2 separate regions of the Homo sapiens genome follow, and region 2 is linked to region 1. Evidence: fine-mapped expression QTL. A gene starts in region 1. The other region holds a variant in brackets. All regions are shown on one strand. Distances are from middle to middle. Region 1 holds the start of DDX60L (DExD/H-box 60 like). Region 2 overlaps PALLD (palladin, cytoskeletal associated protein).

What was found. PIP is the estimated chance that this variant, and not a neighbour inherited with it, causes the effect.
Region 2: its variant is fine-mapped to the expression of DDX60L in whole blood (TOPMed, PIP above 0.99).

What each region holds. Positions count from the first base shown.
Region 1 is chr4:168,477,979-168,483,363 of GRCh38, forward strand. It overlaps DDX60L (DExD/H-box 60 like), which reads right to left and starts at 2,514. Exons shown (of 38, transcript NM_001012967.3): 1 at 2,399-2,514. RefSeq lists an enhancer at 2,533-2,772.
Region 2 is chr4:168,501,754-168,507,138 of GRCh38, forward strand. The region is part of intron 1 of PALLD (palladin, cytoskeletal associated protein); the gene reads left to right. The region is part of intron 1 of LOC107986198 (a long non-coding RNA gene); the gene reads right to left. Among named protein-coding and RNA genes, the nearest start is that of PALLD, 7.4 kb to the left of the region's middle. The variant T/G (reference allele first, on the strand shown) is at 2,432.

The DNA.
Region 1 (5,385 bases):
GCCCTTTGGGAAGCTGATGTGGGAGGACTGCTCAAGGCCAAGAGTTGGAGACCAACCTGGGCAACAAAATGAGACCACATCCCTATTTTAAAAAGGAAGGGAAGCGAAGGGGAGGGGAGGGGAGGGGAAAAGAGGAGAAGAAGGAAGGGAGCCAAGAAATTTGGGTCGCACAGGTGACAGCTTCTGTACTGCAAATAAAAAGTGATAGGACAAAAAAAAAAGAAAAAAAACACCTTGCTCAACAAAGACTCATAAAGAATTCTCAGTTAAACAGAAGGACTTAGCCTTGCTGCAAGTATTAGGTGGAGGTGTTACCCTCCCAGGCCAGACTATCATTTCAAATGAACTTAAGACAGATTATGCTAATTTGAGAGGGAATTAGGATGAAAATAGAAACTCTCTGGGTGTAATTAACGGCATAGGGAACTAACTAGAGCATAAGAAGCTGGATACATTTCTTAGAGAATTGTATTTCCAAATAAACTATGAGCTGCCTTAAAAATGGTTACATCAGTAAAACAAGCAGCAGGTTATAAAAAAGGGTGATATCAGTAAATCAACCAGCAGGTCTCCATACTTACAAAGCAGAAAATGAGCCTGCAGCAGGGAAAACCACAGAGATTTCCACCCACATCAACATAGCCGTGGATGATAATTAACATGGGTATTTTATTAAAAGCCATAAAGCTAATCCTGAGAAGAATTTTTAAAAATATATAATTCATATTAGAAGTATTTCTTTCACAGGGAGTCGTCGGAGTCTGTCTAAAGTAGATAAAACAAAAGACTGATTTGTAAGCATATAATTTATAAGCAACCAAGAAAGAAATGTATATCTTTGGAGTGGTAACGCCTCAGGAGAACTAAAACTGTGAGACTAAGTATGAAGGGGAAAGTAGTAGAGAAGGGCATTTAATTTTTGTTTTATGTCTTTCTCTTCTGCTTCAAATAAAACTGATCAATTATGACCCAGCATACCATGGGGTATCATACAGCAATTACTAAGTAAGACTGACAGGTACCAATAAATCATGAACCAAGAAAAGCATACCAGTATGACAGCCAAAATATCTTTTAAAGTGTATGGATCTAGAGATAGACAGATGATGGATCGATGGATGGACGGATGGTTGGATGGCTGGATGATGGATGGATGGATGGATGGATGGATGGATGGATGGATGGATAGAGAGATAGGAGCTATAGACAAAAACTTGTCTCTTTGTAGAGTATCAGGAAGGATTCACACTAAACTATCCCCAATATCTTTGGGATAGAAGGCGAAGAGCCTTGGAAGCATAACTCACCCTCATTTATTTTAGTACCCTCAACTCTCAGCACCTGAGTTCCACCAAACTTCAAACTGCAAATCTTAGATTGAATGGTATGTTACTGTTTTCAGGAGAACACTCGAAATCATGAAGGTCTGTATGTCGTTGATGTTATGGTTTGGACTTCTTATTGTGTCTTTAAAGGACTTGCTTCTGTTTGGTTCTGACCGCTTTTTCTAGCAGTCATTAGGAGCTTTCATAATCCTTAAGGCCCCATCACGGATGATGTCAGCTTCTTTGATTATGGAAAACCTTGAGAAGTTTATTATAAATTTATCAATGTAACTTTGTAAACAAAAGAGAAGCGGGAAAAAAGAACAAAGTACCTTTCCAGAGAAATAGTAAAACCTTATTTCCGCTATTAAGAGCTTAAATCCGGCCGGGCGCGGTGGCTCACGCCTGTAATCCCAGCACTTTGGGCGGCCTAGGCGGGCGGGTCACGAGGTCAGGAGATCGAGACCATCCTGGCCTAACATGGTGAAACCCCGTCTCTACTAAAAATAAAAAATAAAAAATAAAAAAAAATTAGCCGGGCGTGGTGGCGGGTGCCTGTAGTCCCAGCTACTCGGGAGGTTGAGGCAGGAGAATAGCGTGAACCCGGAAGGTGGAGGTTGCAGTGAGCAGAGATAACGCCACTGCACTCCAGCCTGGGCGACAGAGCGAGACTGACTCAAAAAAAAAAAAAAAAAAAAAGCTTAAATACAAGACGGAAAAAAGGGAAGCGGCTTGCTGCCTGTCAATGTCCAGGTTCGAATGGCTGTGCTCAGATGTGGTGACCCTTACTTTCTCCTCAGCACCCCAGATCCCCAGGCCCCCTCGGGTGCAGAGGACCCGTTAAATGCCTGAGCACTCTCCTCTCTCACGGTGGTTGTCCCTCTTCCCTACCTCTCCGCGAAGCTGCCGCCCGAGCCCAGTGGGCGCCCCAGCTTCCCTCGCCCGGCGCGCACGAAGCCACCAGGCCACCTCCCCGCCCGGTCCATCTGGATGTTGAAGGAATCCTAGAACCCCCGCGGGACAGCTCCGCTCCAGGGTCCCTAGCGACACCCGACGTCACCCGCAATCCTCACCCCGGCCGCCGAACCTGCTAGGTCCAAAGAGCTTCGGAGCTGCACGCCCCGCGGGGAGGAGGTGGAGCAGAGGAGACCGAGCGCAGAGCCTGGCGTCGGACTGGGCGCTCTGAGCCACACAGCAGCCAGCGCCTGAGTTTTTATCTAGGGAGTTAGTTTCGGTTTCTTTTCTCCACCGCGAGGCCTTTTCGATTTCCGCAGTTTTCTGGAGGTAGAATATAGGTCTGCATTGGTTTACTCTGAGAATCTTAGGGAAGTAATAGTAGAAGCGATGATATGCTATCTGGGACATGCATGTAATTGTAAAGGGAAAGAAAGCAGAGAAATCTGGGACTCTAAACAAGGAATTGAGGCTGAGAGTAAATGCAGCACGCTAAGCACTATGAAAGTCTGCGGTGAGGTGTGGCGTTTTTCTTTTCTGGCAAGGTACTGGACAGGCAAAAATGGAGTAAAAAAGGATTAGGGGCTTTGAGTTTCTGTCCTAAGAAGTTCATTTTATGAAAAATTTCCAATAGTATAACTGTCCAGTGTGAACATTTGAAAGACCAATCATCTATCACAGAGAATTTAAATTGAGAAGAAGAATGCTCTTTAGTTTTGTCATCAAGCTCATTAATGTTTGAAATTCGAGTTTCAACCCCAGCCCATCATGGTCTTTAGTGCTCCAGACGCTTAATTCCATGACGTTATGCATGTGCAGAATATATTGAGATTCAAGGTGGTGGTGAGGGTGCCCCAGTAACGGCATGGGGTAATAAATGGAGAGAAATCGAAACCGGAAGTTCTGTCTTCAAGAAAAGGAAAGGGTGGAAGTGACTTGTTCACAATAGAAAGAGCCCAGAAGAACAAAGTTTTTTCTCAGACTCTGGAATATAAAGTGGCTTCGAAAAGGAGGTGAAAACATTGCTCACTTCTGTCAGGATTTTTCTTTAATTTTATGTTTGGTTGAAAATAGTTATGATTCTCTTTCTCAATGAGGATGACATTGAGAAAGAACCTGAAATGACTCATGATTAAGTCATGAGTTCATCTCAGATGAATTCCTCTCTAGCATCTGATACTGGACCTTTGTATCATAAGAATGCATTTGCTAGCAGCAGAAAATTGGGCTTTGCTGTAAAAGCATTCATTGAGCTTTTTATGTGCCAGGCAATAGGCTAAGCCCTTAACATGTATTATCACATTAAATCTCACAGAAATCCCATGAGCAACTTTACTGTTGCTATTTTATGGATGAGGTAAATAAGGCTTAGAGAATTCAATTACTTGTCGATGACCCTACAGGTAGTTAATGGTAGCCAAGACTTCAAAATTTAATTCCAAAGATAATATCTACAATATTCTCTGTATATATTATCTCATTCCAGTTCTTTTAAATACTACAGTGTCATTATTCCTCCCCCAAAGCACATACAATTTAATGGGGATTTCCTCTTTTGGTTGTAGAAGTGGGCCCTACATGTTCTTAATATAATTGACTGTCTGCTGTTGTTTTTCTCTCTTAAAGATATAGATGTATCAGGTGGGGATTCCCTAGATGTTAACTCCACACATCCCACTTCCCACCGCAAAGTATATGTACAATGCACATAAGCAGACTCTACTCCAAATCAATATCCAGTTCTCTTCCACTTTAATAATATGTTACCATAACTCCAGCCTGGACATTATCCAGAAACTTGAAAATCATAAACTCCATTTCCACTTTTTAGAGACTTCCCCCTTGCCTCAATCTCTCAGTCTCCTTAGGAGCCCCACTCTTTCACCTCCCCAGGATCAACTCTGTGAACAGGCACTGAACCTTCCTCTCACTAACATTCTCAACTGCTTCATCCACTCTCTTTCCTCTGCACCTTCACTGCAACTTGATCACCTCAATCTAGTAAACCATTTTTTGCCCTTACCAGGACATTGAAGGAAATTGTCTAATATTTTTCACCTCAGATTTACTGTTTATGACTATAGGTTCCTGATCTTTTTTACAGTGGCCCTTAAAACCCTACAGCATCTTGCTGTTCTCTTCAAGTCCACTAAGAATATATCTGTTTTAAAGAGACTCCTTTTAACTGTCTGACACCTCCATCTAGTCCAAGAAGCCCATGACATGCTCCACATACAATATAACCACTCCCTTTTGAGTTGGTTACCTCCAGCTTCCTCAGGAATCTCACTCCATTCCTATATTGTTAACCTCTCTCTATTTACAGCTGTGGTAGACTGAATAATGGTCTCCCAAAGACATCTATGTCCTAATCCTTGTACCTATAAATATGTCATCTTCTGTTGCAAAAAGAACTTTGCAGATATTCCTAAGAATCTTGAGATGGGGAAATTACCCTGGATTATCTGGGGACCTGATATAATCAGAAGGGTCCTTATAAGAGGGAAGGACTATTATCAAAAAGGAACCAGGACAAGGATAATGTGGGAAATTATCAGGATTTCAAGACTGCAAAGGATGGTAAAAGTAAGAGACTCACTGCTGGGAAAACGTACTCTGGAGAAAAAGTCATGAGTACAGCTGGACAACCTTTTGCTAGTGCTTCAAAAAGATCTCTGTGACATACACAGGAAATCCAAAAGATTTCTGAGAATATCAGCAGAAACACTGCCAGCTTGAACTGAAAGGTACAGAGAGAGAATAAAATGAAAGACGGTTATAGGACTCCCAAAATTCCATAAGCAATAAACAGTCTGATAAAACTATTCAGCCCCAAACTTGTGCTATCTTTCATGAAGGATGACTCTGAGGGCAGAGCCTAGAGACACAAATGGTTATTCACAGGCCTTAAAACCTATGGAGTTAGCCTTGCAGATTTTTGAAATTTCTTGGCTTTTTCTCCTTCCATTTTCTCCCTTTGTGAACAGGAATATCTGTAACTGGTACCCTATTCCTGTTCCACCATTGTATTTTTGGAGCAAATAACTTGTTTTCTAGTCTTAAAGCTTCACATATGGAGAGAAATTTTGCCTCAGGATGGTTCATA
Region 2 (5,385 bases), 24 kb after region 1:
GAGCATGTTCTCCTCTTGTGACTTTCACCACCCTCCCCGCCAAGGGTGTGCCCCCCAAAACAACAGTGGTCTGTAGATGTGAACATTAACATGCGAATGTGCACTTCATTTTATCTTATATGTCTGCACCCTAACAACTTTCAAAGCTAGTTTGAGGCTGTATGCAATAAAAGCATAGTACAATTGCCCAAAATCAATTAAGAAAATGCAGATCAAACCAAGTATAAAAAGCTTTGAACTTGAAATGTTTTCTCAATTTACTACCTTTGTCCTTTCTCTTCTTAGAATCTTAACTCCCTAGGACAGAGAATCTATCTTCTTTCCAGCTATGTCCCTGGCCTATGAAAGAGGTGCCTAGCACATAGTAGGCACTCAATAAATAAATGCTGACTGAATAAAACAATGAGAAAAGTAAGCAAAATAAATTTTTTTTTTAGCTAAAAACATCTGAATTTCTATGACTGGAAATTTAACCCTGAGCTTGCTAGTATCCGTGTGAAAGAGTCATCAAAGTTTACAGAATTCTTTGTCTAACAGAATTGCCAGAAAATAGAATAAATGCTTTTCTAGTTCCAAATTTTTTCATGAGAAACTTTCTTTGAGGGTAATGAGAAAGACTGACATCCACGTCTTTATAGATACTTTTTTTTAACACAATGTCTGACCTATGACTGATTTTGCTTTAGCGAAATGAGCAGGTAAAGTGTATTTTATATGTAGACACAAACAGTTATGTGTTATATGTATACACTAACATTTAGCACTGATTACTCTATCAAGTTTTTACCAGAAAACAGAGCCCGGGACACAAGCAACAGTTGATAAAACAGAAGAAAAACCTAGTTTAAGAGCAGAATAATGTTTAGCTGCACTCAGTGGCTCACATCTGTAATCCCAGAACTTTGGGAGGCCAAGGCAGGAGGAGCCCTTGAGTCCAGGAGTTTGAGACTGGCATAGGCGAAAAAGGGAGACCTCGTTTCTACAAAAATATATTTTAAAATTTAGCCAGGCCTGACGATGCACACGCGTAGTTCTAGCTACTCAGGAGGATGAGGCAGGAGGATCCCTTGAGCCCAGGAATTCAAGGCTACAGTGAGCTATGATCATGCCATTGCAGTCCAGGCCGGGAGACAGAATGAGACCCTCACTCAAAAGAGCAGAATAACACTTAGCTGAAGAGAGCATGTCCCAGAGAAATGTCGCAGCAGGTTCTGGGAGGCTGAAAGCAAATCAGTCATCAGAACATTTCCTGCCTCGTGCCTTTGTTCACATGTGTGTCAAATCCTATCCAGGGCTCAAACCACATTTCAAACACCCGGTATTTCTTAGCTTTTCTCCATCAGCTGCTGTAACCCAGTGTGCTAAGCATTTGCCATACAAAGACGCCAGTCACAGCTCCTGCTTCCATTGGGCTCACAGTTGAATGAGGAAAGCATTCTCTAAACAAATACTTGTAATTTAATATGATGACTGCTGTGAGAAACGCAATGCAAAGTAACATGCTTGGAAGAAGAAGCAAATTATATTGATTGGGGAACTGTTAGAAAGCACCAAAAAGTGGTAAAATTTAAGAAAGTTTTCAAGGATGAACCGGAGTTTGAAAAACAGAAAGAGGGCTGGATGCAGTGGCTCATGCCTGTAATCCCAGCACTTTGGGAGGCCAAGGCGGGTGGATGACAAGGTCAAGAGATCGAGACCATCCTGCTAACAAGGGGAAACCCTGTCTCTACTAAAAATACAAAAATTAGCCGGGCATGGTGGTGGGCGCCTGTAGTCCCAGCTACTCAGGAGGCTGAGGCAAGAGAATGGTGTGAACCTGGGAGGCGGAGGTTGCAGTGAGCCAAGATGGAGCCACTGCACTCCAGCCTGGGCAACAGAGCGAGACTCCATCTCAAAAAAAAAAAAAAAGAAAAAGAAAAAGAGAAAGGAAGCACATTTTAAGCAAAAGGAGCAGCAAGTGCAAAGGTGTGAAAACCAGAAAGAATCTGAATTGTTTGAGGAATGGTGAGTGGGCCAGGGAGGCCTGAGTGCATGTGTGTTGGTGATGACAGAGGGTGAGGCTGGAGCATTTCCATCAGCTCAGGCTGTCCACGGGTATGTTTAACCTGCACATCGTGCTTTGGAACTTTTCTCATCAGCCGGGGAGCATCATAGGAAAAAAATAAAAACCAAAAGAGTGACGTGACACAATTTGTACCTATGATCTCTCTTACCATTTTTATCCCTTACTGCAATTTGTTGAAACTATTTTAATAGAAATTATCACGCTCCTCCTTGTAACTGAGTTATTTTTTACTCTTGTCTAATCCCTCCTACTGGATTGTAAGATCATTTAAGGAGAATAACTACGCCTGCCTCATCTTTGTCCTCCTTGAAGCTTCTCTTGCACAACTAAGCAGTTGTTCCGTTGATTTCATGTTCAACTTACTAT[T/G]CCAGGAAAGGGAAGTAGAAGAAAGGAAGCATGACTGTAAGATGGGCGAGGCCAAGGAAGAGTCATTTCCTCCATGGTGAAGAACATAATGCTACGCAACTTCAAGCAAATTAAAAAACAGTTGTGGTTGGCCAGGCATGGTGGCTCACACCTGTAATCCCAGCATTTTGGGAGGCTAAGGTGGGCAGATCACAAGGTCAGGAGTTCAAGACCAGCCTGGCCAATATGGTGAAACCCTGTCTCTACTAAAAATACAAAAATCAGCTGGGAGTGGTGGCAGGCACCTGTAGCCCCAGCTACTCGGGAGACTGAGGAAGGAGAATCTCTTGAACCCGGCAGGTGGATCTTGCAGTGAACTGAGATCATGCCACTGCACTCCAGCCTGGGCGACAAAGCAAGACTCCAACTCAAAAAAAAAAAAAAAATGGCTGTGGCTAATGAGCGTTTTAGGGAAAATGACAATTAAGCTAAACTGCTAAAGCTGGAGATGATGGATAAGACAAGGATGAGAAAAAGAAGAAGACAGAAGAATTTCTAGGAAATTCAGATTCCTTCTGAGAAAAGTGAGGAGGCAGGGGACAGGACAATTTAAAGATGCCAAAGAATCCTTTATTCTTCAAAATTTCAAAATCTTTCAATGCTACTTACTAAAGTAGAACCACTTTAATGGCGTTGGTGTTTACCTCATTTCCTCTTCACTCATTAACAGCAGTATTAGTGGGTCTTTTTAGTCTATTTCATCTTCTGTGTCTATCACACCGGCATAGAATTACCAAGAGCACTGTTTGACAGAAAACATGAAATCTCAGGCAAATGATGGAGATGTTTGTGATTGTGTTTCATTCCTTTTGATTTTGACCTTTTCATTTTGGAGTGCTGACTGACATGGAAATCTCTGAAGCACAATTTTCCAGTGAACTTGGCCCGCTTGGAAACCGCCCTTGTTCATCCTCATTGAATGAGCATTTTCCCTAGACCACGTGCATGTTCCCGCGGCAATAACTGGCTTGCAAATTAAGCCTGAACCAGATATGCCATAGAACTATTATTTTCTTTTTCAATGTGCAAGCAGTTTTAAAGCTACACCTAATCCTGACTACTGGATCCTGTCAGATGGCGCCTCTTTAAAACCAAAATATGAGTTAATAAGCAGGTGAGATAATCTGCCTCCAGCAAACACTCCCTACATTAAGAATTGAAAATGTTTTCATCATTCAGAAGTTTGCTTTAAGCTTTGTTATATAATGCTCCTTGTGAAGTTTTAAAATGTATCATATTATGTTCATTTGGAACTAAAAAGCAATTGAATTAATAGCAGAACTCTGATTTCTGATCCACAGTTTTGTTAGTTTGATACATTGCTTAGGATTCTCAATTATGAAAACTACAATGGTAAGATGGTAAAGTGCATAGAACATGAGCTCTGGAGTTATTCCCTGGGCTTAAACCTTGGTTCTCCCACTCAGATTTTCTGCCTCCATTTCCTCCTTTCTAAACCAGAGGCTGCTGTGAGGGTTTTAAATGAAATAATCTACATGATGACTCTGGGCACAATGCCCACCGCAGGGTAAGCAGTCCATTATTAGCCATTATCATTATCAATCATCGTGATCATTAATTGCCTTTATATGTGTTATATGAAGTCATTAGGTAGCTAATGTTCTATAGAAGGGGTTGGCAATTTTTTCCTGTAAAAGTGCAGGTAAATATTTTAGACTTCATGTGCCATATAGTCTCTGTTGCAACTACTCAACTCTGACATTGGTTCAAAAAAACAAAGACAATCTCTACATTCAAACTCCTACCCATGAATTCCAACCCAGCATATATGTCAAAGGCCACCTATTCCTTGACCATATTTTCAATGGCCTTGCCCACTTCCCTCCCATTTTACCTGCATGTCAAACTGGGATCATCTATCTCTGTACCTTCACCTGGATGGCTGAGCTCTGGTGGAGAGAATTGCACAATCACACAGATTAATGACACTATAAATACATCACATCTAACTTCAACCAGGCCCTCACCTCTACCCATAAATCCTTCTTACAAAACTTCCTTCCCCCTTTTTCTACAACAGCTATTTCAAATCATCTTCTGTCCTCATAAACCTCCAATGCACAGAAGTCTCAGTTTGGGAACTCTCCTTTCTTTCTATTACAAATTTTGCAGAGAATCTCATGTTTCTCTCTCTCTCCCTTTCTCTCTTACCGCCCCCCATGCCCCAACACACATACACCCTTTGTTACTTCTCTCCTTTAACAATGAAAGAACTGCCCCCTTCCTACTGGAAGCTGAACACCTCATACTCCGTTTGTCCTATAATAACTCATTTCTTCTTACATCTTTTGAGAGCTGACCTATAAATCATCCCCGCTTTTTTACATTTATTTTCAGCTTCTCCCTTCTTACTGCCTAATTTGGTTTGTATAAAACATGTTACAGCGCTCTATCCTAAAAATGAACAAACCTCACCAGAGTCTATACTTTTGTTCAACTACTACCTTCTGTCTCTCCTTCTTTCTATGATCTTTTCAAAACAAACCACCACACCTGTAATATTTTCTTTCTTTCCTTCTTTCCTTTCCTTCCATGTAGCAATCTGGCTTATATTTCTGTTGCATACACCGAAAGTGCTGTTGCAATGGTGCTAAATATTCCCAAGTTGCTAAAATCAAAAATCAAAAGGACATGTACTGCTTCCTGAGATATTTTCTTTCCCAGCTTCCACGATATCTAGCTTTTCTTGCTTCCCTGTGATTATTCGAAGGATTCTATCTTCTCCTTCTTTTTTCCTCGATGACCTTATGCATTCCCATGTCTTAAAGTGCCACCCATAGGCTAATAATCCCCAATCCAGCTCTGTTCTCCCTTCTCCTGGGCTCTAGATCAGCATCTCAAATCTCCTAGACATCAACACCAGAGTTACCAAAGGTCCCTCAACTGCAAAAGGC